Regions from separate parts of the Homo sapiens genome. Here region 1 is reported to be linked to region 2. The links are microRNA targets in miRTarBase. Many come from high-throughput screens and were not tested one by one. Region 2 holds a microRNA gene; the other region holds the end of a gene's coding sequence.

Region 1 (5,377 bases), not on the chromosome of region 2:
TACTGAGCAGCACAGGTGCAGGCAGAAGGAAGCTCCCTAAAAGGGAAATTGTTCTGTACCCTGGGTCACTGCCAGGCACTCTCTACTGGGTGCTTTTAAAATACAATCTCATTTACTTTCCATAGTAGCTTTGTGTGGTTTATACTATCCCCATTTTCGAGATGAGAATACAAAACTCAGTTCAGTTCACTTAGCCAGAAAAGAACAGAGAGCATGTGAACCCAGTTGATCTAACCTTTTCAACTTTCTCTCTAGCCTGGGCCTGACGAAGCCATCAGGCCTAACACATCCTCTGCCTGCAAAATGGCTAAAAGTTCCAGCCAAAGTGACCTGGCTTTTCTAAAGTCTGTTCTGTGTGATCCCACAGCTCCTCATTCCTCAAACACTCCCTCCTTTACCAGGCTCCTCTGCCCTTTCATTTGTACTCCTTGCAGGGAAGCCTACATTCCCATGAATCAGGACTTCTGTGCTGAGCTGTGTCATAGTGATACCATGATCCCCGCCGAGGTAGGTATGAGGAGGAGCCAGTTTTGTCCCCAGTATGAACATTTCTGGAATGGGCCTATTCAGACTTCTACCAACTACATATTTCAGGCATTTAGTCATGAAGTCCGTGAAATAGTATAATCTTTTTTTTTTTCTTTTCCTTGAGACAGGGTCTCGCTCTATCATCAAGGCTGGAGCGTGCAGTGGCATGATCTCGGCTCACTGCAACCTCCGCCTCCCAGGCTGAAGCCATCCTCCCACCTCAGCCTCCCAAGTAGCTTGGACCACAGCCACTCACCACCATGCGTGGCTAATTTTTATGTTTTTTTTTTTTTAGTAACGGTCTTTCCCCATGTTGCCCAGGTTGATTCAAACTCCTGAGCACAAGCGATCCACCTGCCTCGGCCTCCCAAAGTGCTGGGATTACTGGCATGAGCTGAATAATCTTGTTTATACAATTACACAGTTATATTGGCAAATATCTATGATGTAGTAATTTTTCAAGCACTCAGAACTTGATGCTGGCCAGGTGTGGTGGCTCATGCCTGCAATCCCAGCACTTTGGGAGGCCAAGGTGGGAGAATTGCTTGAGCTCAAGAGTTTGAAACCAGCCCGGACAACATGGCGAAACCCGTCTCTACAAAAAATAGAAAAATTAGCTGGGTGTGGTGGCACACACCTGTAGTCCTGCTACTCAGGAGGCTGAAGTGGGAGGATCATGGAGCCCAGGGAGGTCAGGGCTGCAGTGAGCCATGATCATGCACTCCAGCCTGGGCGACAGAGTGAGACCCTGCCTTAAAAACACCTGAAAAACAAAAAGCCCTGAAACCCAAAACCAAAAAAACCAACTGGCTGCTACTACCCACATATTCTAATGATATTTGGAGTTTGAAAAAACCTGGGATTGGCAGAGTCGGCAAAAATGGGTGTAGACGAGTTTCCCAATCTCAGGACTACTGACATTTGGGGCTGGATGATTCTTTGTTGTGGGGGGCTGTCCTGTGCATTGTAGGATATTGATCAGTATCCCTGGCTTCACTCACTACATGCCAGTAGCTTTGTGACAACCAAAAACATTTCTAGACATTGTCAGATGTCCCCTGGTGAGGAAAAATCAGGCCTAGTTAAGAACCACTGATACCTCTGATCCCGCAGGGCTGATCTATATAAAGTGCAAATGAAGCCACCATCTTCCTCTCCTCCTACAGGGAACTTGTGAATCTTTCCTCAATCCCATACCCTTGGGAACCATCTCACAGAGCTGATGCCACTTGGCTTGGGAAGTGGGGTGGAAGTGAGGGGGAGAGAAGGAGCAGGTGGAATAGAAGCAGCAAGAAAAGACAATGGAAAAGCTTCTAGAAATAAGAAAGGTTTATTTAGCAAAAGCCACTAGACTAGTGACAACATCCAGGGAGTAAGTGCACTTACATTAACAGAATCTTTTCCCAGAGAGTTGATCCAACAGAGTTAATGACACAACAGCTTTAGGAAGTAGAGTGCTAGTGGGTAGAGGGTTAGGAGGAAGCAGTCAAGCAAAGAGTAAATAAAAGGAATACAACGCCTAAACAAGATCAGTTGAGAGAAATGAGGCTAGGAAGAGGTTTTACAGAGAGAGCATTGATATAAGCAGGAATATAAGGAATATAATTTTTAATCTCAATATACAGTCCATCCAGTGCAGAGAAATTCTTTCCTGGCTCCATAACTGTGGGAGCCTCCTGTGCACGAGAGTCTGCTGGCACCTGGGGTAGGCTGGGGCAGGCACCAATAAGGTTAGCACCCCTGGTGTCCATTTGTCCTCCATATAGGGCAGAGTAGAAGAATGAAAAAGAGGAAGGCAGAGTTGAGTTAGCAGAGCAAGAAGCAAGGAGGGAGGACAGGGTGACATCGTCGGGAAATCAGGTCTGCAATGTTCCCTTTCCTGCCCAGTTGGCCCTGATGGAGGGTCGGTGGCTGGTGATCCTTCAAGGCTCCTAGATCTGTCCTTTGTCTCCCATCTCCACACACCAAGTATGCGCTGGTTTGGGTCCACTGGGGAGGATACCAATACACAAACTAGTCCTCCAGGGAGGGCCTGAACTGGGGAAAGGGTGGCGCCCAGGCAGGAAGAAACCACCATGGAACACCCCAAGGGCAGGAGTCTTGGATGGGTCCCAAAGTCAGCAACACAGATAACTAGTTTCTCCAATTCTTTAATTTCTCCATTTCCTTTCGTCTATCCAATCTCAAGTTTTTACAGGCCATTTAGAAGCGGCCTTCCTCACCCACTCCCTGGCCACATCCCACACAAGCCCTCTCCATCCACATTCCATACACCTAATCCACTGGCCTCTGGCTTTATCCTCAGCTCCGGCTTACGTCAGAAAACAGACTTTTCACTCCTCTGGACGTTCAAAATCTTAATAATCTAAGTGGTCTTGGACTCAGGGAACCCTGGGTTAGATTTCATAAGCTAGGTAGGCTCAGCCACACTGGATTCTGACAGCTGCTCATTTAGTTTCATGGATCTCACTTTCCTGGTTCTTCCTTCTCTGTGTAACTGTACCTATTTCCAATGGCAAATTAGATCAAAACAAAACAAACAGAACCATGCCTCTCCAACTAAATGCATGTTAGAAAACACAAATCTGTTGCTGATTCAAACACCCTGGAGATCCTCGTTCTTTTCCGTCTGGTTACAATCCTACATATATGTACACACTTTCCCTCACACATGTATATATAAACACATGTGTACACACACACACAAAACACACACACACACACCACCTGATCCTATTTCCACTGACACCCTGATGCACCAAGGAAGGCTAACATAAAACTGAATTTATTTCCTTTAATTTGGACTTTCTGGGCTACAAGAAAACCAACTGTGGCCATTAGAAGAGGACTGCACTTTTATTTATATATAATCTAAAGGAAAGCTAGGGTCGATGAACTCCATTTTGGGATAATCATATCCTTGCCGATTGACCCTCCAATAACACTGCAGTTTGCATCTGTACCTTGTTGTCTAGGATAAAGACTTAATTCCCCGAACATATGACTCTAGCAGGTCTCAGCAATCTCTTCAGGCATTTGAAAATCTGTTAACAGCCACTTATGGCCTTACAGGAGCAAAGGAGCTTTTCCTCATTGCCCCAGCCAGCCCGTTAAGGAGTAGTGATCCCTAGGCAAAGCCTAGATCATAAAAGATAAGACAATTGCACATGGCACTTTTTATATGTGTGCTCAAGGCACGCACGCAGAGAGATGGGCCAAGGGTGGCAATGGCTGTGGTCCCTGACCCAAGTGGCAGTGATTCAGAAGAGTGGACAAAAACAGTCTCACAGTCTCAGCTATCAGCTTGCATTCATTCTTTTTTTTCTTTCTCTTTTTTCTTTTTTTTTTTTTGCAGTAAAAACTGACCACCACTGCCCAGTGGAGGGGACAGGTTGAGAGGTAAGGCTGGGGGCTCTGGTCCTCTGGGGCTTTCAGAGAGGTAAAGTGCTGCAAAAGCTTCAGCTGGACAGGACACAGGGGAGGTGAGGGGCAATTCCCAGCTTCCATTTAGATGGGCTGGGCTACAGGCAGGAGGAAGGCAGGGCAGGACTTTCAAAACAGGAATCAGATCTAAGTGATTTGGAGCAGCAGACAAGCTGTCCTCCCCCTGGGCTCTCACACCAAGGGCCTGAACCATGTTAAAGCTTCAAGGCTCCCTTTGTAGCAACATTCAATGTCCGGCTGGAGAAAATGTTTGGATTCAGTTCCTCTAAAAGCTTATCCACTGTGACACATTCCAATTCCATGCTCACCCTACAAGGACTAGCCTGGCTTTTGCGGTCCAGAGCACTCAATCTCTACAATCTCAGCAAGGGCCTGGAGAAGGAATTCCTCTCATAAAGGTAGGGGGAGGGTTAGGCAACTCGCAGCATCGTGATATCCAGAAACAAAGTACCTGAGAAGGTACCGATGGCTTCCCTTCCTGGTCGGGACCATGGAGACGGGGAGAGTGAGGGGGTAGGGGGGCATCACGGACAAAGCGTGGGAGCCTGACGATGCAGCAGGTAGGGGCAGGTCCTCCAGCAGCCTGGCAGTCCTGGAGAGAGACCCTCTCCTGAAGCCATGGGCTCTGGAAGGCCTTACCTCCACCACCCTCTAGTCACAAGTAGGAGAGGAGCTGATTCACCTCTGGGAATCCGATTTCTTCCCCACTTTACCCTCCAAAGCAGAATCTCAATACTTTCCTGAAACCTCACACTCTCCCGGGCCCTGGCTGGCATTCTCCTCGGCAGTGCACATTCACTGGGCATCCCCTACCCGGGCAGCAGCCAGACACGGCCCCTCCAGCCACGCCGCCGCCTCCATCTCCTCGCCCTCGGCACCTACACGGCGATCTCATCATCCAGGCCGTCGCCCAGTTCCTGCCTCTGCAGGACATTCAGCAGGCGCGGCAGCTCCTCCTGGGACCACGAGTCGCGCTCCTCGCTCTCGTCCGTGTTGGACTCGTACTCCGAGGCGATGCCTGACTCTCGGAACTTGATGAGCTCCAGACCGCCCAGGAGCGCCTCGCCCTGCGCTGGGGGCGGGGTGTCCTCGGGCGGAAGAAAGCGAAAGCACTCCAGCTTCACCAAGCAGTCGCGCCTACCTAAGGGGCTGCCCGCAGGGTGGGCAAAGTCAGCCAAGCCCGCGCCCAGCGGCGGCGAATGCAGGTCCTCTGGCTTAGGGGTCGTGGGGTCACAGAGCACGGGCAGGGCTCCGGAGCGGAAGGTGATCTCCAGCAAGCTGTCCTGGGAGCCCACTGCAGGGGAGACAAGAGGTAGCAGAGGGGCAGCGTTAGGCAAGGTTGTTGATTTGGGATGCCCGCCTTCTGCCCGCCCGTGCCCTGCCAAAGCCCTTCCCAGACCAGCTT
Region 2 (5,377 bases):
AATATTTGTCTTCCTAAAAAAAGAAAGGCTTAATATTTTTACATTGAAATGTTTGGACTCTTGGTATGTTGTTTTTAATTCATGAGACAATGTGGCCATTTGTTTTTTCCTCTTAGGACATTGTTTTTTGAACACATAACTTAAGAGAACTACCTAGGCCAAGTATGAATTCAAAGTAAAAAGCTGGGAGAAAAGAAAACCACCATCAGAAAAGCACTTGGTAAATTTGGCATTCTTTCTAATATATAAAAATAAAAGAAAACTCAGTTTAGAAAGATGATAAACATTATTGAAACACACACTAAGAGGTGAGGAAAGAATGATTAAATGGTAGAAAAAAGTTAACTCACATTTCTCCTTCTAGAAGCTCTATTCCTTTATAACTTATATCCTTCACGTGCAGTTTGCATATAGTAGCTCTGCTAAAAACAACCACATGGAAAATTTTTGTTCCAGATAATACTGCAGGACAGGGCTTGGCAGCTACAAGTTGTAATCAGAATGCTTCAAGAGCTAATGTAACAGAGATAACAACCAAACATGCATTACAGTGCATAGTCTTAATTCTTTTTAAAAACGGGCTGGGAGAAGGTCAAAAGCTCTTAGGTTATAGTGTACTTTATTCAGTAATGCGACCTTTTAAACTAGGGAGAACTTCGCTCCTATGAATAAGTGAATTGCTTAAAAGAGAAATGATTCTTTTTTCCAGTTAGGGCATTCTTCTATTATTTAAGATGCTCAAACATAGAAGCCTAGAATGAGCAAAAAATTCCAGTTCCTAAAAATGACTTTTCTCAGCAATTCTACAGGCCTAAATTGTCATCTACAATTTATTGAGGCTCCTATAGCCATCCCACTGGCAACGGAAGAGCCTAGTTATTTAATAAATATGGAAATCCACAGTACAATGGGCCACTTTTTGCCAGGGGTAATATAAAAAAGAAAGAATGCTAATTTTATGTGTGTTATACCCCAAGAGGGGAGAATAAAGAGAACTGTGACTTGATAAGTTTTCTGTATTAGTTGGCAGACTGAGATAAAAGGAGTCACAGAAAGATCGTGACTTCAATCCAAGTTCAAATGGCAAATTCAGATGGAGCTCTAACTTGGTGGAAATTAGGCGCCATGTTGATGCGAGGAATGTGAAATGAGAGAAACCCCTCCATCCACAGGGAGAGGGGGTTTCATGTGATCCGTTGGTGTTATTCTCTCCCCCCCAACACGAGCTGGCACTCACACAGCTGGGCTAAGATGGCTTCCAAAGTCCGAAATAAGACGCTAGCCCAAGGCAGCCCTGGTCCTGCTGCTGGAACTCAGAAGCAAATGAATCAAAGGCTCTTTTATTCTCCCTCCCACCAGAACATGCTCCCTCTCTGTTGTAAACTAACTGCTTGCCAGAATGAATTACTTAGCTTAAAACAGACATAAAGAAATCTTAAACAACTCATGTCCCTTGGAATTTTAATAAGTTCAGGTGACCAAACAAGTTGTTTTGTTCATTTCTAGTTTGATGCAGAAAATTCACTTGTGCTCAGGAACCCATGAGGAACATTAGATCTTAGCAGAAACAAAAACTTCTCAAACTAGAAGATACAGCTGACAGCCAAACTCCTCACATGAAACTGGGGTGCTGGGAAGCAGTTTTTTTCATGAGGACATCTAAACTCAACACAAATCTTTGTTCTTCCTTTAAAACCAGCCCTCCCTTAAGATTTTGCTGTTGCTGCCAGCAGTACACCAGCTCTTCTAAAAGCAAAGTGTAAAATTCATTTGCGGAGTCTTCCCTGGCATCTCGTACCCCTGCATCCCCTGTTCTCACTCTAAACTTTCATTTGGCAACTAATCATATATCATAGCTCCTATAAAATGACTGACAGCTTGTCTTCACAAACAGATTAGAAACTCCTTAAGGGCAGAGAGTGGGCCTTTCCTTCCTTGCATTCCACACATGGCACATAACAAAAGCTCCTGCGATACCTGTTTATTATTCAGTCAACAGGCATCTGTTGAGCTCCTACTCTGAGCCAGGCATTGCACAGGGGCTCAAGACACAGCACCCAGCCCAGGAGCACAGCAGCCAAAGGCCCTGCATGCAGGTCTGCCTTCAGTTAAAAACCAAGAGTCCCCAAAGAATACTGCTTAAGCAGTCACTAAACTATTTAAGATAAATAGTAAAGATTTCCCCACAAGGAAGATTTATGTCCCCCAAAAATTTATGTTGCAGCTTATTGAAGAGCTCCCCATTTGTCCCTTCCACCCAAGAAAATGTCTGAGAAGAGGAACGCTAAACTGCAACAGGGCTTCTGCTGAAGATCTACAGCTCCTCCCTCCCCCATTTTACAGGTAAGGAAACTGAGGATCAGAATGGTCAAATGCTCCTGTGGGTGGGTAATGGCAAAACCAAGTAGAATCCGGGTCCTGACACTCAGTCTGAGTTTCCTTCCACTATAGCAAAACATCCCCACTAAAAGCATCAGTGGGTGCATCAAATTACATTTTAATACAAAATTCTTCAAAAGTAAAGTAGTAGCCCATCTACTACAATGCTCCTTCTGGCTGTCAGTCTCTGTAAGAAAATTAGGACTGCTGAGTACCTAACACATGTTTTGAATCTATCACCTCTGGCTGGGCACGGTGGCTCACACCTGTAATCCCAGCACTTTGGGAGGCTGAGGCGGGCGGATCACCTGAGGTCAGGAGTTCGAGACCAGCCTGGCCAACATGGCAAAACCCCATCTCTACTAAAAATACAAAAAAAAAATTTGCCGGGCGTGGTGGCAGGAGCCTGTAATCCCAGCTACTTGGGAGGTTGAGGCAGGAGAATCAGTTAAATCCGGGAGATGGAGGTTGCAGTGAGCCATGAGCCAAGATCATGCCATTGTACTCCAGCCTGGACAAGAGCGAAACTCCATCTCAAAAAAAAAAAAAAAAAAAAAAAAAAAGAATCTATCACCTCTGAAACTTTCTCAGTCTGCAAATTGTCAATAGCTTATCTACATATTTTTATGTTAAGTCTAAAATATGGGATTTTACTTACTCTCAAAAAACGCTGTGTGTTTTACTCCTTACATTTTTAAGCAGGTTATGGCAAAATACACTGAAATAACCAGTCACTTGTCAAACAGATTATCCAACTATAACTCTTGCCACTTTTTGTTCCAAGATGATCTCTTAAAAAAATAATTTTAAAGAGCCAGCAGAATTCTCAAACTACCCCCTCCAAACTAATGCACCTTCCTAACAGTAATTCTGAATCTCAAAAGGTAGCAATCAGATTTGGAGATTCAGCAAGTTGCACGTGGAGAGTTCTACACTTATCATTCAGCCCAGGCACAACAAATGAACTATCATTAACCATCATAAAGGCTTAATGTAATTGCAAGTTGATGATCTCTGTTAACAGAAAAAACATTCTTGCTACACTTGAAAAGGTAAAAACATTGGGAGTCTGAATTATGTTTACTAACATGAGGATGGCAAGAAAAAATTTCCTTCAATAGAATAATTATGCTTATTCAGTCACTGTAAGCAGAAACATCAGAATCCATTGATTGCTAGTGGTAATTGTCAAAAAAGGATAGGAAGAGCTTCTAGACATGACAGTCCTCTTTGTTGTAGTGACACTATTGAGCAGGGGTTTCATGCTTAGCACAGGTCCTGGGTTGTCCTTGAACCAAGGAGATGCTGACACTTGGCCTGCCCACGCCCCTCTCCTCCATGTCAGATGTCAGGTGCCCACCCAGTAGGAGAGGCTATTTCTGTTTCTAGGCCCATTTCCAGAACCAGGGGTGTGTTTTTGAAGTCCAGACAAGAGTTGTCCTGTTAATTGACAGCTGCAGAGCAGACAGAGAGCCCACGCTGGGTACAGATTACCTACCTAAGAACTGGCTGGGGCCTTGCTACCAGGCTGGCTGTCAGCTAACAGGCCACCTTGCTCTGGCCTCAGAAGCAGGTTCTCCTGCTGAGATTGTGCACCTGCCCAATGCTGACAGCTGGGCTATGGAGGAGCCCAAACTTAGTGTTTGGGCTTCAGGCAAGGAAGCTCCTCCTCCAGAGCGATGGTGGTAGCCAGCTGTCTTGAAACAATACTTTATTTACAGACTTGCATCTTATTTCAGCTAAAATTTCAGGTTCTGATGAAAATTTCACCATCATTTCTTTAAATAATTCTTTAAAAATCTGAGCACCATTGTTGAGTGCATACTACCAAGACTTTACTTGTTTTCTGTAATCCTAGTGACAGTAATCTGTTTATGATTCCATCAGGTCCTTAACAAAGTAAAAAAGCAGCTGTTTAATATATAACACAGCATGAAAACAGCAACACCACAGTAGCAACCCTGAAAAGAAGCATTAAAATTTTCACCTACATTTTAAGTAGATTTTAAAAACTTCCAGGAGAATGAAACACATACAAGAAAGAACCTTTTGCGAATATAGAAAAAATTAAAAAGAGAAGGAAAAGCTGGGGAATCTGCTGACTACTCTTGACTTTCATTTTTTTGTGTGTCATTCTTTAGAAAATTCAAGAAAAGCTTACACATCAGACTAACACACTAGCGTGTACAAAAAACAATCCTGCTTGAGTTGACTATGAAACAGTAAACATAAAACGGAGCTGTAAATGGAATACATTGGGGGCCATATATGAGATGGCTTTAAAGCTAAAACTAAAACAATTTAAGGCCAGGCGTGGTGGCTCATGCCTGTAATCCCAGGACTTTGGGAGGCTGAGGTGGGTGGATCACCTGAGGTCAGGAGTTTGAGACCAGCCTGGCGAAATCCCATCTCTACTGAAAATACAAAAATTAGCTGGGTGTGGAGGGGGATGCCTATAATCCCAGCTACTGGGGAGGCTGAGGCAGAAGAACTGCTTGTATCTGGGAGGCAGAGGTTGCAGTGAGCCGAGATAGTGCCACTGCACTCCAGTCTGGGTGACAGAGCAAGACTCCATCTCAAAAAAAAATTAATTAAAAAAAACTAAAACAATTTTTTTGTCACTTAAAAGCCCTTATGGATCATCTTAATCAGTGTTCGGACTACCCTATAAATGCTGTAAACAGTGAGACAACTGTCAAAGTCCCATGGGCCAAATATTTCCAAACAGAATCATGATGCTCAAACTCCCTGAAGTCTCATTTAATAATTATAGTATCAAGCATCCAAGATATCTTTTCATAGCAAATCCATTCATTACAAATCATTATCCACAAACATTTTGCCTACTGGGTGGCCAACAATGTTTCCTTTATCCAGAAAAATAAACATTCTACATAAAAAAAACAAGCATAGGAAATGCACGTATACATGTCTATATCTTTGATGGTCAAAGCTACTTTAGCAAAAACCATCTAAACTGGACAGCAAAGCCAAAAGA

Evidence for each region. The annotated mature microRNA hsa-miR-3139 reads UAGGAGCUCAACAGAUGCCUGUU and lies in region 2 at 1,995-2,017, opposite strand. An mRNA with a match to its seed (bases 2 to 7 or 8) in the 3' UTR can be bound and repressed. Matches are read on the target gene's strand: a 7mer-m8 pairs with bases 2 to 8, a 7mer-A1 pairs with bases 2 to 7 and ends in A, and an 8mer does both.
Region 1: miRTarBase lists NOS1AP as a target of hsa-miR-3139. Seed matches in the 3' UTR shown: 7mer-m8 at 4,641-4,647 and 7mer-m8 at 3,607-3,613.

The regions. Positions count from the first base shown.
Region 1 is chr1:162,366,941-162,372,317 of GRCh38, reverse strand. NOS1AP (nitric oxide synthase 1 adaptor protein) reads right to left here. Exons shown (of 10, transcript NM_014697.3): 10 at 1,843-5,266. The coding sequence ends at 4,851. Among named protein-coding and RNA genes, the nearest start is that of SPATA46, 7.2 kb to the left of the region's middle. RefSeq lists an enhancer at 4,616-5,115.
Region 2 is chr4:143,340,109-143,345,485 of GRCh38, reverse strand. MIR3139 (microRNA 3139) reads right to left here and starts at 2,026; the gene lies at 1,951-2,026. All of the region lies in intron 1 of GAB1 (GRB2 associated binding protein 1), which reads right to left.